Linked DNA regions of Homo sapiens. The protein of the gene in region 1 interacts with the protein of each later gene in a pairwise test. Each region holds a gene or a part of one and is shown on either strand. Other genes may lie near its edges.

Region 1 (3,500 bases):
GTAATTGGCAAAACCCATACCAGGCATTCCAGAAGGGTAAAAACAAATAAACAAACAAACAAACAAATAAAAAAAACATCCTATTTGTGAAACAAAACTATATGTTAGTCTTACACTCAGAATTCTCTTTAGGCAGCACTGGGAAAACCTGAAGCTCTTACTGCTTGTGAGAATTAAAAAATGGTCAGTTCTACATCAACATAAACAAACAATCCATCTTACACTCTTCTTGATAGAGCAGCCAGCGTTAACTGCCTAAATTCACTCAAGCAAGTTTTAAAGGACAAATCCGTACTTTGCCTTTGCATTTGGGGGTTTAAATTGAACACTTTGTGTATCATTCTGTACTGATAAATAAACCAGCTATATACTAACATATTAAAGGCTACAATAATCAATATTTAGAATTATAATCTTGGGGCAACAGTATGAATGAACTAAACTCAAATCCATGAAAAAAACTTAATGGATGTTGGCCCATTAAAAATTAAAATAAAAGAAGGGTTACTTCCTCTAAGAGAAATCCTTTTGCCAGAAACAAACAATAATGAATTGTTTATTTAAACTGTAAAAGTACAAGTATTTTCTGTCCATATATAGGAAATGAGGAGGTCATCTTATAAAATAGTCAAACATAAACTTACTTCAGACTAACTGCAAAGAGTTCCTAAGATGGAATGCAGAAGGTTGGATTCTAAAACAATCTATAAGATCTCTCTCAATTCTAAGATTTTACGATCACATGAAATTGGAATACAATGAGAAAAAACCTTACATGATCCTCAGTTATAATTTAACATGAAAAATACTTATGTAGAAAGATAAAAGATGAAATTAAGTTTTTATCAATACTAGTAAAGATATTTATTTCCTCAAAAACCAGCATCAAAAACATAACTTGAGGTTCTAGTTGTTTCTCAAAAGAAATTAACATTTCAAAGATTAGTAAAAAAATTAGCTTTTCATTCATGTGTATGGCAATCCTCCATAAACAAAAAACGAAATCGGGAGTATTTTTTTTTTTTAATTGATGACTACTTTTGCCAGTGTTGTATAGATTAAATGTCCTTGTTTGGTAACATTTAATTCCATCCACAGATGAAATAAATCACCATTAAGACTGCCAAAACTACATTAGTAATTAGAGGCAATAAATAATTTAGCAATTGTCTTTCCTTTTTAAAACTTTAAGCAGTCTTGTTGGTATTTTTTACAAATAAATGTAAAAACAAAAAAGAATAAGCTCCATTTTAGCAATCAGTTTGACAGGAGCTAAAATGTACTCCACAGCTATCAACTGTGGAGGGAAACAGCGCTTTCATCTCCGTCCACTCATGGACCCAACCAAGGTTTAATGACTTCCTGTTTCTGTAGTTTTGACAAGTGAACTATTGTGGAAAATAAAAAAGTAAACATACTGCAAAGGCACTGAGAAGATTAAGTAAATGGCATTATATATATATTAGTAATTTAATAAAAATGCAATTTGATAAACTGATTCCAGTGATATTATAAAATAGCAAAGTCTCAACATTACCTTTTTAAAAGAAAAGATTAGAAAATTTTGAAGAAAGCACTGATGTTTACCATGCTTCATTAGTAATAGCTCTACCTCATGCTTACATGAAATCTTATCACATAAGAGTTACATAAACAACACCAGGGCTGGGCACAGTGGCTCATGCCTATAATCCCAGCACTTTGGGAGGCCAAGGTGGGCAGAGCACTTGAGGTCAGGAGTTCAAGACCAGCCTGGCCAATATGATGAAACCCTGTCTCTACTAAAAATACAAAAGTTAGCCGGGCATGGTGGCATGTGCCTGCAGTCTCAACTACTTGGGAGACTGGGGCAGGAGAATCGCTTGAACCCGGGAGGTGGAGGTTGCAGTGAACTGAGATCACGCCATTGCACTCCAGCCTGGAAGTCACAGTGAGACTCCGTCTCAAAAGAAAAAAACAAAACAACCAAAAAAACACCAGCCAATTGTCAGAATTAAAATTTAAATAAAAATTTACTTGGCATAACTATATCATTATTAAAAGTAAGTTCAAAATCAAGTACCTCTTTGAGTTTTCATAGGAATAATGTTTCCCAACCTGTGAATTTAACCTCTTCGGTGAGGTATCACTCTTCCAAAAAATAGGGTAAAACAATAAAGAGAAAAAATTTTCACTAAAACACAAATATATTAATTTCTCTTGGAATTGTAAATACAGAGGAAATTTTAATATATTGCCACTATCTATGGCAACTGAATAGTTCCTGGAAGCATAATAATAGAACCAGAATAAGAGGAAAACTGTTGGCTTTCGGTGCAGTTTCTTCTGTTGCTTAAGAAGTGTATTAGCTATTGAATACCTGTATTATATACCAAAACGTTGTGCTCCATGAGTGAGTCATTCTCATACCTTATTTTGTCACATGGAAAGAGTGGGTTTAATAATAGCAAAAAAGTGCTTCCAAGCATCGTTTTCATCTATGGGATTATAAAATAAATGACAAACCACACTTATGCTCCATTCTCCTTCAGAAACAAGATAGAAGAAGAAAAGACAGTGCGCTGAAATTAAAAAAAAAAAAATTGGGATCACTGCACCAGGTGACGTTGAATCTGTTGAGAACTATTATACCAACCAAAGCAAAATAAACAAAAAAGGATGCTTGGTCCTTATGTGCATATTATATTTCAGGTTCCTTTCACCAACACATGCAAAATCATATACAACTTCCTTAGATGGTCTAGTTTTTTTTTTTCCTTAATAAAGCATATAATGACAGTTTGAGAAATCCTGAAACAGAGGTACTAAAAAGCCAAACAGGAAGATAATTAGGATAGCATACGTCAATTACCTGGTGAATAGATTAGTATTAACATAATCCTTCAAAATCAAAACAACTACTTGTCAAAAGCAGAGCAGATAAAATCTTACGTGTACTCCGGTGCAGAAATCGGTGCCTGGAACCTTGAAATTTTATTTCTTGGGGCAGAATCTGATCTGTGCCACCTTAAATAATAATTATGCTTCTTTTACATATTCAGCTTTTATAACACAAAGAAAAAGCTAGATCTGATTTTACTGTTTAGAATTCACTTTTGCGCTAATAGCTGACCACAATCTTATTGCCTCTTCGAAGTAATTAAGAAAACAAAGGCTAGTGCTCCTGCTCTCATACCCGTTCGCACTTTTATTCTTAAAGCCATGGAATAAAATAAAGTGGAGACAGGCAAAGTTTCATGCACTATGACGCACAACAATTTCATGTTACAAAGAAAACACTAAAGTAGGTAAAGATAGTAAGAGTTTAATAATTATTTTAATAGAGGTATTATATCAATTGTTTTTTCCTCACTACGTTAACAACACTGAATAATATGTTCATTATACAAAATTCTAAAGTTAGTAAGATGTAGATTCTTAAAGATAAATTGTAAATTATAAAATTAACAACAGTAGGAAAAGAAAGGGCAAAGTTACATTATTAACAAAATACATACATA
Region 2 (3,500 bases), on another chromosome or scaffold:
ACATGTAAACTCAGGTTTTAGCTGATGGGGAAGAGGGAGACCCTGGACTGGAAGGTCAGGTAGGACAAGTAGATCTAGCACAGGACATTACCCAGTGGGCTGATGTACCACCTTTTGGGCCCCAAGTTCCAAAAGGCACTCCACCTCCCTCTGCCTAGACACAGAATCCAGTGCTCCCCATCCCCCAATGAGTATGGAGGGGCACAGACATGCCAGAGCCACCCTGAGGCAGGCAGGGACAGCCAGAACAGGGGTCAAGTTGCCTCTTACTCAGAGCCTGCCCCGCCACCTTTCCTGCGAAGGAGCACAAATACCCACTATGATGACTGCAAGGCCCCTGCCCTGTCACTGCTCACCCGCCAATCTTCACAACACGACTATTTATAGCATTCGCCCCGCTCTCACCATGAGCTCTGAAATGAGCCTTCCACTTAGCAGTAATGAGAGACTTATTGCCTGGCAAGGAGAAGCCACTCCAAGACTCCACTTGTCCACCTGCCTGGCCAACCCTAGGGTTGAGGAACCTCCTTCAACTAAAGCAAGCTAGCAAAGAAGGGTTAAAAGCAAGCCCACGGATGATAAAGGGAAAGAGGAGTGAGCCTGAAAGGTTTACCTAGCTAGGACCCTCAGCAGCCAGCTGAAGGGAGGGTGCATCTAGGAGGCCACGCGGGAGGTGGATGGCCTGTCCCAGGTCTGGCTGTGGCTCAGCCTCTGACTCCATGGGTGATCCAGGCAAAGCCTTCCATCCTAAGTCTCCATGTGCTCAACAGCAAAGTAGAACACCCTAGCCCTGATGCTTCCAAGGTCGGTGAAGGAAAGTCATTATTTTTTAATAGTTGGAGTCAAATCTTCTTTGCCAACCTGGGTGCCCTCGGGGCTTCCTCCATCTCAAGAGTCCATGCCCCTGACACGTCCCATTTCTAAACACACAGATGGCTGTCTTTGCTTCTCTACCCACTCACATACCCACTCCAGCCTTGGTCTCCAGGAGGAGGCTAAACAAGATCACAGTGTCAGGAAGCAGGAGCTGTCAGGCTCTGGGGCCCCTCCAATGCCAGCACTTAGAGGCAGGCATCTGCCAAACCTGAACCCAACTCAGCAAACTGGTCCAGGTCACTGAGGCCAGGGGCAGGGAGGCCCCTGAAGAAGGTCCAGGTCCTTCCCCAGTAGCTAGATGAAAGAAAAGGATCCCTGAATCTAGTCAGGGCATGGCCTTCACCAACATCCTCACACTCTGGACAAAGGACCCAAAGGGTAGTAGCTGAGTGGCCATCACAAGAGCAGCAGACATTTGGCTTTTGGGGGAAGATCCCAGAGGACAGAGCCTGTGTCCACCCAGAGATTCCAGGGACAATGGGGACCCTAGCCCAACCCCTCTCAACACTCAAGCCACCTCCCTAGCTTCCCTTCTGGAGGAACTTGGCCATAACAAGATAATAAGAGGGAGTACTGCTCTTTCCACCCTCTCCCCTAGGCTGGGCAGCACCAGGCTGCCACCCTGTGCCACCTGTTCTGCCAGCCCCCTCGTTGGCAGGCGGGAGGCAGCTCTGCGGCTGTTCTGCGCATCTGCTTCCTCCGGAGAGCCCGGCTCTGAAGTTGCCTGGCTGTGGACAGCCCCGTTGCCATGGAAACTGCATCCTCCATCCTTGCCGTCGCCTTCATCTCAAAGCCATCAGGGAGAACAGAGGATCAAGGGAGACAGAGGATGGAGAGAAAACTGTGGCCCTGCGACACAGCCCTTCCTTCTCTGCCCAGCTCTCCCTCCTCACAGCATCTCACACAGGGAGCACCAGGTCCCAGAGCCTGCTCCCAGACCCCTGGAGGGGCAGCCTCAGGCCCAAAACTAGCCTGGTCCTACCTGCTGTTACCTGGGGGCCCTGGTCCTCCCTACTGGAGGGAGGCATGGAGCTAATTAAAATGCCATTGACTGTTCAGCCCCAAATCATTATAGCACATGCACCAGGTCCTACCAAAATTCAGACTTGGGCAGAGAAGGGACAGGAAGAAGGCAAAGGAGCAAACTTCTAAGCCAGGCCCACAGGCAGAGAAGGGGCTTGTAGTTGCCCCCTGGCCCTTCCTGGGAGACTGCTCTCCCTTGCATGCTCTGCCCACTGAGCAAGAATGACTCTAGTGGGGGCTGGGGATGGAAGGTGAGGGGCAGGACAAGCTATATGCTCTGTCCCTGAGTGATCAGGCAGAGAGGACAAGCCCTTTCCCTCCCAGCCAGGTGCAACCTCGGAGGGAAGACAGGGTGACCATGGGCTGGCTCTCAGGTCCTTGCTGCACAGTAGGAGCCATGGCCCGGGCAATATGTCAATGAGCCAGTAAATATTGGAAAATCATTGGAGGAAGGCGAGGCCAGCTGCCTCTCCCTCAGTTAGCCCCAGGGAGCCCTTGGAGAGCAGACTGCCAGTGGCCAAGGACACTAGCTCAAGGTCACACTGGGCTGGTCCCACTGGTGAAGAGCCTGGGTGGGCCTGGGGTCCTCCTAGCCCTGGCACATCCCCTTCCACAGCCCAGACAGCCAGCAGTGTGTGGAAGCATTGCCAGGACATGAGAACGTGCTCTGCCACTGACACCACTGGCCATCTAACAAACCCACAGCCCAGAGCAGCTCACTCCCACACACAGACCCAAGGAGACTATAAAGCCTCTTTCCAAGGTGGGAGAGTTGCAGATGTTCACATTCCTCTCCACCTAACAGGCAAAAGTCAGTGAACCATGCCAAGGTGCCCCCAGGGTCTGCCAGAAACTGGATTCAGAGTTCCAGTCCCTCAGACACACCTCCGGGCCTTCCCTCCCACCTGGGTCTTCCACATGCAGAAACAAGATGGGGACTTGGGACACCACCCATGATGCAGGAATTTCTAAGAGACCCCAGACACCAGCACTTCCCCACCACCACCCCACCCTGCACCAACACCTGCTTACTCACTCAGGAGTGTTGGCAAAAAAGGGAAGGAGCAGCTCACCCACCTCACACAGGCTGCCACAGTGCCACTGCGTCAGCTACCTTGGGGACACACCACACACTCCCACCTCACTTCAGCCTGAGTTCATCTCCTGGGCAGGGTGCAGGCATTTACCCCATTCAGCTCAGGGCTCCCACAACAGGGCAAGACTGATACACCAGGCCAAGCTTTCCCCCACGGGACCCACAGTGCCTCCCCAGCAGGTCTTTCTGAATTATGGGAGAGGAAGAAAAGAGGTAAGAGAGAGGACCTGGACCTGAACTATCCTCATTTAGTGCTTTGTATTCAGGACATCACCCTGTGCCCTGGCTTCAGCTAGGGATTGGGAGCAAATAGAAGACAGAAGAGGTCAGGCCCAGGACGAAGGCTGATGATGGGTCCCACTCCCAGGCTACCCAGAGGCTGGAGGTTTGCTTAGAACTAGGTGGCTGCAAATGCCCAAAAGAAGGAGGCAATGTGTGGGCCAAGGACGGGTCACATCTCCTACATAAGCTCTAGGCCCAGCAAGGGATGAGGTCTGGCTGAGGG

The links. Proteins that work in one complex are often made in the same cells at the same time.
Region 2: the proteins of MFF (region 1) and TEX264 interact in binary tests that used the Homo sapiens proteins (3 or more experiments, as listed by UniProt).

What each region holds. Positions count from the first base shown.
Region 1 is NC_000002.12:227,342,251-227,345,750, reverse strand, and holds part of MFF (mitochondrial fission factor), read right to left. Parts: intron 3,007-3,500; coding exon of another isoform or gene 2,932-3,006; intron 1-2,931. UniProt on the Homo sapiens protein: Plays a role in mitochondrial and peroxisomal fission. Promotes the recruitment and association of the fission mediator dynamin-related protein 1 (DNM1L) to the mitochondrial surface.
Region 2 is NC_000003.12:51,695,252-51,698,751, reverse strand, and holds part of TEX264 (testis-expressed protein 264), read right to left. Parts: intron 1-3,500. UniProt on the Homo sapiens protein: Major reticulophagy (also called ER-phagy) receptor that acts independently of other candidate reticulophagy receptors to remodel subdomains of the endoplasmic reticulum into autophagosomes upon nutrient stress, which then fuse with lysosomes for endoplasmic reticulum turnover.